2 linked regions of the Homo sapiens genome follow. The protein of the gene in region 1 purifies or fractionates together with the protein of each later gene. This does not show direct contact. Each region holds a gene or a part of one and is shown in the gene's direction. Other genes may lie near its edges.

Region 1 (7,026 bases):
TTAGTCGGGTTTGGTGGCACATGCCTGTAGTCCTAGCTACTCCGGAGGCTGAGGTGGGAGGAACACCTGAGCCTGGAAGGCCAAGTGATTGCACCATTGCCTGCGCTCCAGCCTGGGTGACAGAGAGGGAGACCCTGTCTCAAAAAAAAAAAAAAAAAAAAAAAATTCCTGTGGAGTGGCTGGAGCCACAGCGTGATTTAAGGCACCCAAGACCTTTACAGCTCCTGTTAGTAAGTGAAACCTGAGGTTCTGCCTTTGTGCTACCTCTGTATCCCATATAGCCCTCCAGTGAATAAATCAATGAGTTTATGTTGAATAAATATATTGAATTTATATCGAATAAATATAAATTTAGATTGAATAAATAAATGGGGGTAAACAAATGAATGTGGGGATACAGCTTTTAATAGTTTCAGCCTTCATAGACTCATAGTTAATATATTCAGTCCTTTTACACAATACTGCAGTTAATTCTGCATATGATAGTCTCCTCAGGAAGGACATAGGCTGTCATTCATTTTGATTCTTGGCACATAGTATGCATTCATTATGGTGAATTAGTAAGCAAAAATGGGAAATTCATGTGTCTTTTGGAAAGTAGCTGGAGTCAGGATCTCCTGTTCACTTTGTACATCTCTATTGTATTTTCCTCATAAGGAGAAAACTTTGGCTGGGCATGGTGGCTCATGCCATCCCAACACCTTGGGAGATTGAGGCCAGGAGTTCGAGACCAGCGTGGGCAGCATGGCAATACTCCATTTATAACAAAAACAGAAATTAGCTGGGCGCGGTGGCTCATGCCTGTAATCCTAGCACTTTGGGAGGCTGAGGCTGGCAGATCACCTGAGGTCAGGAGTTCGAGACCAGGCTGAGGAACATGGTGAAACCCTGTCTCTATTAAAAATACAAACATTAGCTGGGTGTGGTGGCACTTACCTGTAATCCAGGTTACCCAGGAGGCTGAGGCAGGAGAATTGCAGGAACTTGGGAGGTGGAAGCTGCAGTGAGCTGAGATTGCGCCACAGCGCTCCAGCCTGGGCGACAGAGTGAGACTCTGTCTCAAAAAAGAAAAAAAAAGAAATTAACTGGGCATGCTGGTGTGCAACTGTAGTCCCAGTTACTTGGGAGGCTGAGGCAGGAGGATTACTTGAGCCTCGGAGTTTAAGGCTGCTTAAGTGATTGTCCCACTGCACTCCAGTCTGGACAGAACCAGAAAAAAAGAAGAAAACTTTCAGCTAAACAACTTAAAAGTAATATTATCCATTCTGTTCCTTCAAGGTTTTCCTTTTTTTTTTTTTTTAGACGGAGTCTCCCTCAGCCACCCAGGCTGGAGTGCAGTGGCGCAATTTCGGCTTACTGCAACCACTATTTCCCAGGTTCAAGCGATTCTCCCATCTCAGCCTTCTGAGTAGCTGGGATTACAGGCACTCGCCATCATTCCCGGCTAATTTTTGTATTTTAGTAGAGATGGGGTTTCACCATATTGGCCAGGCTGGTCTTCAACTCCTGACCTCAGGTGATCCACCCACCTTGGCCTCCCAAAGTGCTGGGATTACAGGTGTGAGCCACCGCACGTGGCGTAACGTTTTCCATTTTATAGATTGCTTCCAAATACAGTATAGCTTTTGATCCTCACAACACCTCAGTTGAGTAGGCAGGGTAGATACTGCTTTTTTACAGAAAAGGAACTGAACTCAGGCAAAAGTGAATTAAGGTTACGGTTGGGTCTGGAATTCCAGAGACTTTTTGATAATAATGATAATATTGTGAATAAGATGGTTCTCATTTTTCTAGACACAGCAGTTTGTGGCACTACAGCACCATGCCAGTGATCAGCACTCTCACCAAAGCCTGTCACTTCTCCCCAGCCTACCTCTCAGGGAAATCGTAATATCTGTGAAAGAGCTGTTTTTGTTTTTGTTTGTTTGTTGACACAAGGTCTCTGTCGCCCAGGCTGGAGTGCAGTGGCATGATCTTGGCTCACTGCAAGCTCCGCCTCCTGGGTTCACGCCATTCTCCTGCCTCAGCTTTCCGAGTAACTGGGACTACAGGCGCCTGCCACCATGCCCGGATTATTTTTTGTATTTTTAGTAGAGACGGGGTTTCACCATGTTAGCCAAGATAGTCTTGATCTCCTGACCTCGTGATCCGCCTGCCTCGGCCTCTCAAAGTGCTGGGATTACAGGCGTGAGCCACCGCGCCCGGCCATTTTTGTTTTTTTTGAGACGGAGTCTTGCTCTGTCACCCAGGCTGGAGTGCAGTGGCGCGATCTCGGCTGACTGCAACCTCCACCTCCTGGGTTCGTGCCATTCTCCTGCCTCAGCCTTGTGAGTAGCTGGGACTACAGGCGCCTGCCACCACGCCCGGCTAATTTTTTGTATTTTTTTTCTAGTAGAGACAGAGTTTCACCATGTTAGCCAGGATGTTCTGGATCTCCTGACCTCGTGATCCACCCACCTGGCTAATTTTTTTACTATTTGTACTGACAAGATCTTGCTATGTTGCCCAGGGTGGTCTCAAACTCCAGGGCTCAAGCAATTCTGCCACCTCGGTCTCCCAAAGTGCTGGGATTACAGGCGTGAGCCACCGCGCCCAACTTGTGAAAGAGCTTTGAAGTCATAAAGTTTTTTCTCTCTCCACCAGTTCCCTTGTACTTTCACTTTCAGTAAGCTGTGCCTCCAAAGTGGGGCTACAGCATCCCCACTCCCTGGTAATCTAATGGCTGGAAGGCAGCCGTTTGCTGTTAGGGTTCTTGGGGGATGTAGGCTACATAGAGGTAGGTACATTCCTGCTACATACAGGTGGTCCCTTGTACAGATAGGCCCATCCCCAGGACTATTGCTGCTGACAGCCGCCTCACCATGACATCAGGCCAAACCTAGAGACCCTGACTTTGGGGCTAGTGGAACTTTGCAGTTCTAGGCGTGTACATTAACACAGAGCTGAAGGGATCTTTAGAGATAATCTCATATGGACCCCTCCTTTTTTTGGTGAAGTGACTCCCTCAGGACTTGAAGCTAGAACTCAAACCCCGGTCTCCTGAGCCTCTCTCCCTCTTCCCCAGTTGGACTAAACTGAGGGTTTTTCTCCCCCTTTTTTTCTTTTTTTTTTTCCTTCTTTTTTTGTTTTTTTGAGACGGAGTCTCTCTCTGTCGCCAGGCTGGAGTGCAGTGGTGTGGTCTTGGCTCACTGCAACCTCCACCTCCTGGGTTCAAGCGATTCTCCTGCCTCAGTCTCGCAAGTAGCTGGGATTACAGGCACGCACCACCATGCCCAGTTACTTTTTGTATTTTTAGTAGAGATGGGATTTCACCATGTTGGCCAGGCTGGTCTTGAACTCCTGACCTTGTGATCTGCCCACCTTGCCCTCCCAAAGTGTTGGGATTACAGGCGTGAGCCATCGTGCCTGGCTGTCCCTCTTTTTTTCTAATTCCTAGTCTCGGGCCTGACACAGAGCAGATGCTCGATACATATTTGTTTAATGAACAAACATCCAGCAGCAGTGTGCTTGGTGTGCTGGGGTGTTGAACCTCTTGAGGTTGGCATGGGAAGGAAGAACAGATGGGGCTGCTGTCTGCTGGTGATGATGATTTTAGCCTTGGACATTACAACATAGAGGTTTTAGGATCAAACAGCTCACCTGAGTCGTGCTTTGACTTGGCTTGAGAAGCCAGAAGTCTTGTGTAATGTGTACTTTGACTTTCAATTCCCTTAATTTTCCTTCATTTTTTTTTCTTTGATTAGTTCTTTGGGGTGACTTTCAAGATGGACTCTACTCTAACAGCAAGTGAAATCCGGCAGCGATTTATAGATTTCTTCAAGAGGAACGAGCATACGTATGTTCACTCGTCTGCCACCATCCCATTGGATGACCCCACTTTGCTCTTTGCCAATGCAGGCATGAACCAGGTAAGGGTTTTTCCTTTTTTCTTGGCTTTTGGTTCACATAAGAGGCAGCAGAGCCCAGATAAAAGCACAGCCCTGGGGTCAGACCGATTCTGGTTCTGTCACTCCCTGTGTGATCTTGTGAAACTTTATGTGATGGGCCTCAGTTTCTTTGCAAAATGAGGAATAATATTGCGGGCCTGTAGGTATTAGTGAGAAGCGAATAAGATAACACATACAAAATGTTTAGCACGGTATTTCGCACATAGTACGTAGGTACTCAAACATTAGCTTTTTTTTTTTTTTTTTTTTCCTGAGACGGAGTCTCGCTCTGTCATCCAGGCTGGAGTGCAGTGGTGCAATCTCGGCTCACTGCAAGTTCTGCCTTCTGGATTCACGCCATTCTCCTGCCCCAGCCTCCCGAGTAGCTGGGACTACAGGTGCCCGCCACCATGCCTGGCAAATTTTTTTGTATTATCATTATTTTTTTTTGAGACGGAGTCTTGCTCTGTCGCCCAGGCTGGAGTGCAGTGGCGTGATCTGTGCTCACTGCAAGCTCCGCCCCCCAGGTTCATGCCATTCTCCTGCCTCAGCCTCCCAAGTAGCTGGGACTACAGGTGCCCACCACCAAGTACAGCTAATTTTTTTGTATTTTTAGTAGAGATGGGGTTTCACCGTGTTAGCCAGGATGGTCTCAATCTCCTGACCTTGTGATCCATCCGCCTCGGCCTCTCAAAGCGCTGGGATTACAGGCATGAGCCACCACGCCCGGCCAGCTATTATTATTTTTTAGAGAGAGGGTCTCACTCTGTCACCCTTGCTGGAGTGCAGTGGCATGATCCTAGCATGCTGTAGCCTCAGACTCCTGGGCTTAAGTGATCCTCTTATGTCAGCCTTCCAAGTAGCTAGGACTACAGGCATGCTCTACCATGTCAGCTTTTAAAATTATTTTATTTATTTTTTAATTTATTTATTGTTTTGAGACAGAGTCTCGCTGTCGTCCAGACTGGAGTGCAGTGGCACGATCTTGGCTCACTGCAATCTCTGCCTCCCGAGTTCAAGCGATTCTCCTGCCTTGGCCTCCGAAGTAGCTGGAACTACAAGCGTGCGCCACCACACCTGGCTAATTGTTGTATTTTTAGTAGAGACGGGGTTTCACCATGTTGGCCAGGTTGTTCTCGAACTCCTGACCTCAGGTGATCCACCCACCTCAGCCTCCCAAAGTGCTGGGATTATAGACGTGAGCCACCTTGCCTGGCCTAAATTTATTTATTTATATGCAGAGATGGGGGTCTCACCAAGTTGTTCAGGCTGGTCTCGAGCTCATGGCCTCAAGTAATCCTCCTGCCTTAGCTGCCCAAAGTGGTGTGATTACAGGTGTGAGCTACCACGCCCAGCCCACCTAATGCCTTTCTTGAAATTATTGCCACCAGTGCCATTTTGGATCCATTGCTGAAGAAAATTTATTAGTTAGTACGGTTTATTTGGGGAAGTTGAATTAAAAATATATTTGAGGCTGGGCGCAGTGGCTCACACTTGTAATCCCAACACTCTGGGAGGCCGAGGCAGATAGGTCACTTGAATCCAGAAGTTCGAGACCAGCCTAGGCAACATGGTGAAACCCTGTCTCTTATTAAAAATACAAAAAATTAGCCAGGTGTGGTGGTGCATGCCTGTAGTCCCAGCTTCTGGGGAGGCTGAGGCGGGACGATTGCTTGAGCCTGGGAGGTCAAGGCTATGGTGATCCCTGATCATACCACTGCACTTCAGCCTGCACAACAGAGTGAGACCCTGTCTCAAAAAAGGAAAGAAAAGAAAAAGACATTTGAAAGGTTTATCGTGAGAGAAAAGGGTTAACTCTTAAAATGATGAAAGCATGACAAGTTTATAAAGGAGTTTAAGAGGAGTTTGTCAGCATGTCTGTGACACTAAACAGTACTTCCCAGGCTGGTCGTGGCTGAAGGGGGTTCAGGTTAGATGGTGCTCTCAGCGCTTTCCTGTGATGGTTCTCTTGGAGCCCTGCTCCCCCGGGGCATCTGCAGCCCTTAGGATGCTTCTCACTCTGGGATGAGTTGACATTTTCTTTTCTCTTAGGTGTCTTTTCTGGCATGGAAAGTTAGAAACAATGGGGACATATTCTGCCTCTTATAATATTAACTATAAAATTATGAAACATGGGGCACAGTGCGCCTGTAATTACATCTACTCAGGAGGCTGAGACGGGAGGATCACTTGATCCTGGAATTACAAACCAGCTTGGGCAACACAGTGAGACTGGTCTCCCAAAAAAATTATGCTACTTGGGAGGCTGAGGCAGGAGAATCGCTGGAACCTGGGAGGCAGAGGTTGCAGTGAGCCGAGATCACGCCACTGCACTCCAGCCTGGGCAACAGAGTGAGACTCCGTCTCAAAAAAGAGAAAATTATGGGCCAGGCACAGTGGTTCATGCCTGTAATTCCAGCATTTTGGGAGGCCAAAGTAAGAGGATTGCTTGAGCCCAAGAGTTGGAGAGGAGCCTGGGCAACATAGGAAGACCCTGTCTGAAAGGAAAAGAGAAAAATTAAAGAAAAATTAAAGCAAAAGAAAAATTGAAAAATTAGCTGGTGGTGGCTCACACCTGTAGTTCCAGCCTCTTGGGAGGCTGAGGTGGGAGTATTGCTTGAGCCCAGGAGTTGAGGTGAGCCGTGATCGTGCCACTGGACTCCAGGCAGGGTGACAGAGCAAGACCCTGTCTCAAAATGGAAAAAAAAGAAAAATATTTTCAGTTATGTGTGAGTCCTATGCATATACCTAGAATTGGAGGCATTAATTTTAGGTGGTCTCATTCAACGGGATAGGCTTTTGGAACACTGGAAAGCTACTGTTTCTATTCAGACATACCTGGGTGCAAGCTTTGTCACCTTCCACATGAGCCGCCTGAACAAGAACCAGGGAGTACAGTGTTTGTAAACTTTTCTTTTTTTTTTTTTTTTTGTTTTTTTTTGAGACAGAGTTTTGCTCTTGTTGCCCAGGCTGGAGTGCAATGGTGAAATCTCGGCTCACTGCAGCCTACGCCTCCTGGATTCAAGCGATTCTCCTGCTTCACCCTCCCGAGTGGCTAGGATTATAGGTGTCTGCCACCACACCTGGCTAATTTTTATAT
Region 2 (7,026 bases), on another chromosome or scaffold:
AAGTAACATCCTTCTTGTGATAAAGTATGTAAGGGAGTATTTTTCTTTTTAAACTCATTGGAAATGATAAACCACCATTTATTCGATTTAGGGAATGAAATGACCTTGGAAAAATATGGCTGTACTGCCAGAGTTTGCTAGCCTTCAATAATAGTCATTTTCAGAGTAAACATTATTTTCAGATATACCTGCAAAAGCCATTTGTACTTACTCTTGTTGGTCCTGCAGTGGATGATGTACCCTGTGCTTGGCTGTATGGATAAGCTCCAAGCACAGAAGCCTTTGCTTTCCATAGCTGATATGTGTCCTGCAGGTGATAGCCCAAGAAGTATCATTTCAGCCTCTGGGTACAAAATGAAACAAGGCTTGAACCTGTGTATTTCAGATGAATGTTTTTCACTACAAGTTTGAAAAGTAATCACCACTCTTAACTTCTCACAAGGACCCAACTAGACTCTAGAAAACTGTATCTGAGTTTAGGAGAATGGGGAGAATCTCAGGGCAGCAAAGGAAATAGTTATAAACTGTAGCTTTCTAATATTTCTTAGCAGAGTGGTCCTGATTTCTCAAAAGACAGCTTTTCATTTTTAGAGCTAGTAAGCTAATTAGTTCCCCTAATGTGTAAGATACTAGATATAGAATATTAGTAAGATAGCCTCGAGGGGGTGCAGGCATATAAACTGATCTTTGAAGTACAGGGCAGTAACTGCAGTGCCCAAGAGAAGAAGGGGAGGTCTGGTAGCCTACCCTGACTCAGCCTTGTGCTTGAAAAGGATTTCTGCAAAGCTGAACCTCAAGGAATAAAGAGTACTGGGAGTGGGAGGGATGCAAGAGGATGGATGCAGAAGGGAGGGAAGCTGCGTGTCAGAGGGCAGGCAGGCTGCGTGTCAGAGGGCAGGCATGGGCAAAGCCAGTTAAGTGAGAAGGATTCTAGGGAACTTGCCTCATTGCCAGAGCCTGAAATTCAAGACCAAGGATGACCAGAGAGGTGACTATAGAGAGGGCTGCTAGAGCAGCTACCAATCCCCTGGCCTGTTGGCCTTTGCTTAATGAGTTCAGAAAAACTGCTATGGTGAGGATAATGTGAAGACTAGAGTTGTATGGGATGAGGCTGGCTAAAGCTAAGGTGACTGGTTAGAGGTATGTGGCAGCTGTACTCCAGTTGAAGAGGAGGACATGGGAGGCCTGTGTGCTGTGGGGTAATCTATTGGATGTAGGTCATTGATGGCAGCACAAACTGTTGTGTGTGCTATGCTGTCCATTTAGAAGACATTCTCTTTGCAGTGAGCGCCACGTTTCCAGAGTGTTTGGTCCACAAAGCGTTATACAAAGGCTCCTGTGGGTATTATTTACATGTTGAATTTTTCCATATTTTTATGTGATTGGTTATGTGATCTGTTTATTGCAGGGTCCCAGAGTTGGTACGAGAAAAACGATTTGGAAATTGGCTGAAAGATGCACGTGACTGGACAATTTCCAGAAACAGATACTGGGGCACCCCCATCCCACTGTGGGTCAGCGATGACTTTGAGGAGGTGAGGCATGGCAGTATTTCCTTGTGTTGATTTTTGCTAAAGCATTTTGTTCATGAAATCTGAATGTGGTTTAAAAGAATAGGGTGTTTTTTTCTTTGCCCCTTTCTTATTTCATCTTTTTTCCTCTTTATTCCTTTCTAGAATCATGACATAAGATAATCTGTTTCTGGGGTTTTTAACTTTTTTTCCTTGAATTAAATACAATTTATAAAACTTTCCTCTGTAAAAATAAAAGGATACAGTTTTCTCAGGGAAATACACACTTTAAATGTTTTTTTTGTGTGTTTCCCCGATGTCTTTTCTTCCCCCTACATTAAGGTATACTATTAGCTTATGGTTAAACTGACTTTATAGATGATGAAAAAAGAAAACTTGAAAAGAAATTTACCAAAGCATTACAGACCTTTAACTTCTAAAATCAAATGAATAAGAGGATGTGTGTAGATATATAGATGTATGTGGATATACTATGTCCTCACTTAATGTCATACAGAGGTTCTTGATAACTGACTTTAGGCCGGGTGTGATGGCTCCCACATGTAATCGCAGCACTTAGGGAGGCCAAGGCAGGAGGATCGCTTGAGACCAGATATTTGAGACCAGCCTAGGCAACATAATGAGGTTCCATCTCTACAAAAATGTTTGTTAAATTAGACAGGCATGGTGGTGCACGCCACTTAGTTCCAGCTACTGGGACCTCTCAATGACATCAGGCGAGGACTTACTATACAGATAGATCTGTGTGTTTGGCCTTCTGTCCAAAGCTGACAGCATTGTTGCAGTGATGAGCGGCAGCACCCTGGGGACCTTGGTGAATCTCCCATAGGGACCTGAAAGGCAACAGTGAAGTAGCTGAATCAGAAGACTTTTCAGGACTGAACAGGAAGGGCAGAGAAAGAGGCCACCAGTGTTCACTAGGATCAGAAGCTCCCTGGGTGAGAACGCACAGCAGTTCCTACTGGTGTGGCCCTTGTCAGATGATCCCTCCATTCTGAGTGCCCCAGCTAGCCCCATCTCTCAGCTCTTTACCTGGATATAATCCTAGCATCCTGTGGCTTTGTCTGATTGCTTTAATCGGGTCCAAGCATAATATAGTCATGCACCACATAATGTCATTCAGTCAATGACAGACCGCATATACGACAGTGGTCCCACAAGATTATGATACCATATGGTTACTGTGCCTTTTCTGTGTTTTGTAATGTTTAGAAACTCAAATACTTCCTGTTTTAGTCTGTTTAGTGTAGCTACAAAGGAATACCTGAGGCTGGATAATTTATAAAGAAAAGTAGTTTATTTGGCTTATGATTCTGCATGACTGGAAAGTTGAAGACTAGACATCTGCATGTGGGGAGGACCTCAGGCTACATCCACTTATGATGGAAGGCTGGACAGGAGCCAGAGTATGCAGAAATCACATGGCAAGAGAAGAAACGGGCGGTGGGGTGGGGGCAGGCTCTTTTCAACAGTCAGCTCTCACAGGAGCTAATAGAGAGAGAACTAACTCACTGCAGAAGGAGAGCATTGGTCTCTTCACGAGGGATCCACCCTGTGACCCAGATGCCTCCCATCGGGCTCCATCTGTCAATACTGCCACACTGGGGATTAAATTTCAACTTGAGATTTGCTGGGGACAAACCATATGAAAACTAGAGCATTTACCATTGTGTTACAGTTGCCTGCAGAATTCAGTACAGCCACATGCTGTACAGGTTTGTAGCTTAGAAGTAATAGGCTCCACCATATAGCCTAGCTGTGTTTTAGGCCATCCCATCTAGGTCTGTGATGTTTGCCTAAGGAAATCACCCTAACAATGCATTTCTCAGAATGTATTCCCACCATTAAGCACTGTATGACTATAATTTAGCTCTAGCTTTTTCTTGGGAAGATTCTAGATTAATGAGCCAGATTCAGGTGCCAGGAGGAAACTAAAATGCCTTAGAGAAATAATCTAAGATGTTTCACTTATGCCAGTTACTTTGACAATTTGCACATAATAAACCCTTAATATCCATTGAGAGTATGGCTATGAATGTTTAAGATTCTCTCTAGGTAGGGACTCCCTCTGATACTGGGGTGGAAACAGAGGAGCAGTGGCAACCCTGGCCTCTTCAGAGACTAAGAGTAGGCTGTGTCTTTCATGAGAGAGAAGCCACATTAGCAAATACTATCCTTCGGCCCAGATTGGTGTGTTAATGTGCCTTTAAATCATCAGTCTCAGGCTGGGTGGCTCACGCCTGTAATCGCAGCACTTTGGGAGGCTGAGGGTGGCTGATAGCTCGAGTCCAAGAGTTTGAGACCAGCCTGGGCAGCATGGCGAAACCCTGTCTTTACTAAAAATACAAAAAATTAGCTGGGTGAGGTGGTGCCTGCCTGTAGCCCCAGGTACTTGGGAGGCTTAGGTGAGAGGATCACCTGAGCCCAGGAAGCTGAGGCTGCAGTGAGCTGTGATTGTGCCACTGCACTCCAGCCTGGGCAATGGTAGTGAGACCCTATCTCAAAAAAAAAGGAAAAAGAAAATCATCAGTCTCTCAAAGTAAACATGCATGCTATATAAATTAACTCAGTATGCTCTGTTTGGCTCTAAGGAGCTCCTGCTATTGAACTTTGTTTTTGACAGGTGGTATGCATTGGGTCAGTGGCGGAACTTGAAGAACTGTCAGGAGCAAAGATCTCAGATCTCCACAGAGAGAGGTCAGTTTCTAAATGTTCGATTCACTTCAGTTTTACGATTCTCCTATTAAGACCTGGTCTCTAGCAGATTACAGAGCCACACATGGAAGTGACTAGCTTGCTGAATTACTTTGCTGATGACTCATGTCATATTGCAGTATTGTGGCCTCTGTCCTTGTGAAATGTGAGGTGAATGGTGCATAACCTTTCAGATGGAGGATTCATGGTGCTCTCTGAAAGCCTTTGAGAATTGCTGATATTTCTGTTTGCAAATGTGTATAATATCTTGTCAGGGTTTTGTGTTTCCTATTAGCAATTAAACTGCAAGTTCTGTTATGCTTACAGTTAATAGAAATGACTACTTTTCTGTTTGTTAGTGTTGACCACCTGACCATTCCTTCACGCTGTGGGAAGGGATCCTTGCACCGCATCTCTGAAGTGTTTGACTGTTGGTTTGAGAGTGGCAGCATGCCCTATGCTCAGGTTCATTACCCGTTTGAAAACAAGAGGGAGTTTGAGGATGCTTTTCCTGCAGATTTCATTGCCGAGGGCATCGACCAAACCAGAGGATGGTATGCCTCCTTGTTCTTTCATCACGTGTTTTATTGATTTTATTTTATTTAGGGAGTATTTTACTAAGTCACTGCCATTTATCTACTGGGTGATGGAGAGATTGTGGCAAATAAGACAGGCTACATTCCTGCCCTCTCCCCTCCACCACCAAGCACGGACATTAAAGTGCCTTTTGAGTAGGACTCTCCCACTACAATAGGGCTGTAGTTTTACAATTTCAATGATCTCACTGGCATTTTGGAATATATGTGTTACACTGGATGTTAAAATGATAAAAAAAGTTATGTGTTCTTAGCTTACGTCAGATCATTTACTCAAATGTTTGAGTATTTGCATAAAAGACAGTAGTTTGGGTGCTAGAAATTTGAGGGATAGTTGGTAATGTGCTCAGATATTGAGGCTAGCCTTATAAATCAACATTCTAAAAAAATCCAGATTTTTAAAAAATATACATATGAGAGAGGATTTGGGCATTGATTTTTATCTGGTGCCTTATGTAAAACAGTTCCTTAATTGGAAGAAGGTGAATTACTTTCTTTCCATGGATTGGCTTTGCTGGCCCAGGCTTTATTTACTTTTTTTTTTTTTTTTGAGACAGAATCTTGCACTCTGCTGCCCAGGCTGGAGTGCAGGGGTGTGATCTCGGCTCACTGCACCCTTCGCCTCCTGGGTTCAAGCAATTCTTCTGCCTCACCCTCCTAAGTAGCTGGGTCTACAGGCATGCACCACCATGCCCAGCTAATTTTTGTAGTTTTAGTAGAGACTGGGTTTCACCATGTTGGCCAGGCTGGTCTCGAACTCCTGACCTCAAGTGACCCACCCGTCTCAGCCTCCCAAAGTGCTGGGATTACAGGCGTGAGCCATTGCGCCCAGCCCAGGTTTTAATTATACATTCACAGTAATGTTTCTGCAGGGGTGTGTTAAAGGAATTGTTGGTGTCATTTTCTCTCTTTGACAGCTTTGGGTAATCATTGAATTCAAGTCTTCATGTTCTGGAATGTGCTGTCTTCAGATTCCAGTCCTTTTTGTCTATAGGAACAGCTACCCAGCACAAATTCTGTTTTTAGAAAGGGGTAGATGCCTTACCAATGAGCTTGTTCCTTTGAGGAGTAGCAAAGTCTGTTAGCTGGTAACAGTCCTCATGTGGATCCCGTGTCCTTGGTGCCTGCCTCCTTCTCCATTCCTGAGGCCTGGGCTACCTCTCCTGGGCACCAGGGCTCCTCCCAACTCTCCTTTAGAAGTGGGAGGGATATCTGGATCAGTGTTTATGTTAACTATGGGGTCTGGTCTCCTCAGCTCATGTCCCTTGATGTTCTCAGAGTGCAGGACTAGGTAAGAGAGGCAGGAAAGCATCACCCCCAGGACAGTGGTCAGGGATATGAGTTCATTTGGGAAACAAGCTAGGTAGCACATAAATGAGGTACATAACATTTTACAGAATAAAAGCATTTTCTAGTCTGCCTTATCACTTTTGGGTGAGAGTGCATTTTGCATCTTTTGTCATCAAATTGTCTTTTCCATATGATCTTGTGCCAAATTCAAAACCCATCCTTCATCTTCAGCTAGGTGCTTCTGGGTGGTCCTGAGAGGCCACCCAGTGCTGCCATGTGGCTCTCCACACAGACTTCCTGGGAGCTCTGGTAACAGAGAAATGGTCAGTAAATCATTCCAGACGTTTATTTCAATGCTTCTTTCAAATCTTAGACAGTAATTTGATTGGTCTCCAGTAACCAGGATTAAGAATCATTGCTTTAAGTGATTCTCAAGAAGTGTGACTTATCAAAAATAGAAATTCAATGAATAAATACAGTTTCTTTCTTATGCTTGGACTTCATTTCTATTTTTATTGAACTGTTTGGGGTTTTTTTTCAGGTTTTATACCCTGCTGGTGCTGGCCACGGCCCTCTTTGGACAACCGCCTTTCAAGAACGTAATTGTGAATGGGCTTGTCCTGGCAAGGTAGGTCAACTTTGTTGTAGTGACGGGTGGAACTTTGTCTCCACTGTTTCTTAAGAAGGAGTGCGTGAGAGCGGTCAACTTTGTTGTAGTGACAGGTGGAGCTTTGTCTCCACTGTTTCTCAAGAAGGAGTGTGTGACAGCTAAGCCTGATGGAGGAGGAGGAAGGGGAGGACTTTCAGATTGTGCTACTGCTAGTAACATAATGCTACTAGTGATATTACTAGTAATAAAATAGCATTTACTAAACTTAGCACTTTATGAAATACTTTTGCTTATAGATCTTATT

Evidence for each region. Proteins that work in one complex are often made in the same cells at the same time.
Region 2: the proteins of AARS1 (region 1) and IARS1 fractionate together in Homo sapiens (co-fractionation; 2 studies listed by BioGRID). This does not show direct contact.

Annotation. Positions count from the first base shown.
Region 1 is NC_000016.10:70,279,502-70,286,527, reverse strand, and holds part of AARS1 (alanine--tRNA ligase, cytoplasmic), read left to right. Parts: intron 1-3,743; 5' UTR 3,744-3,764; coding exon 3,765-3,908; intron 3,909-7,026. UniProt on the Homo sapiens protein: Catalyzes the attachment of alanine to tRNA(Ala) in a two-step reaction: alanine is first activated by ATP to form Ala-AMP and then transferred to the acceptor end of tRNA(Ala). Also edits incorrectly charged tRNA(Ala) via its editing domain.
Region 2 is NC_000009.12:92,262,683-92,269,708, reverse strand, and holds part of IARS1 (isoleucine--tRNA ligase, cytoplasmic), read left to right. Parts: intron 1-1,408; coding exon 1,409-1,535; intron 1,536-4,155; coding exon 4,156-4,229; intron 4,230-4,585; coding exon 4,586-4,780; intron 4,781-6,653; coding exon 6,654-6,740; intron 6,741-7,026. UniProt on the Homo sapiens protein: Catalyzes the specific attachment of an amino acid to its cognate tRNA in a 2 step reaction: the amino acid (AA) is first activated by ATP to form AA-AMP and then transferred to the acceptor end of the tRNA.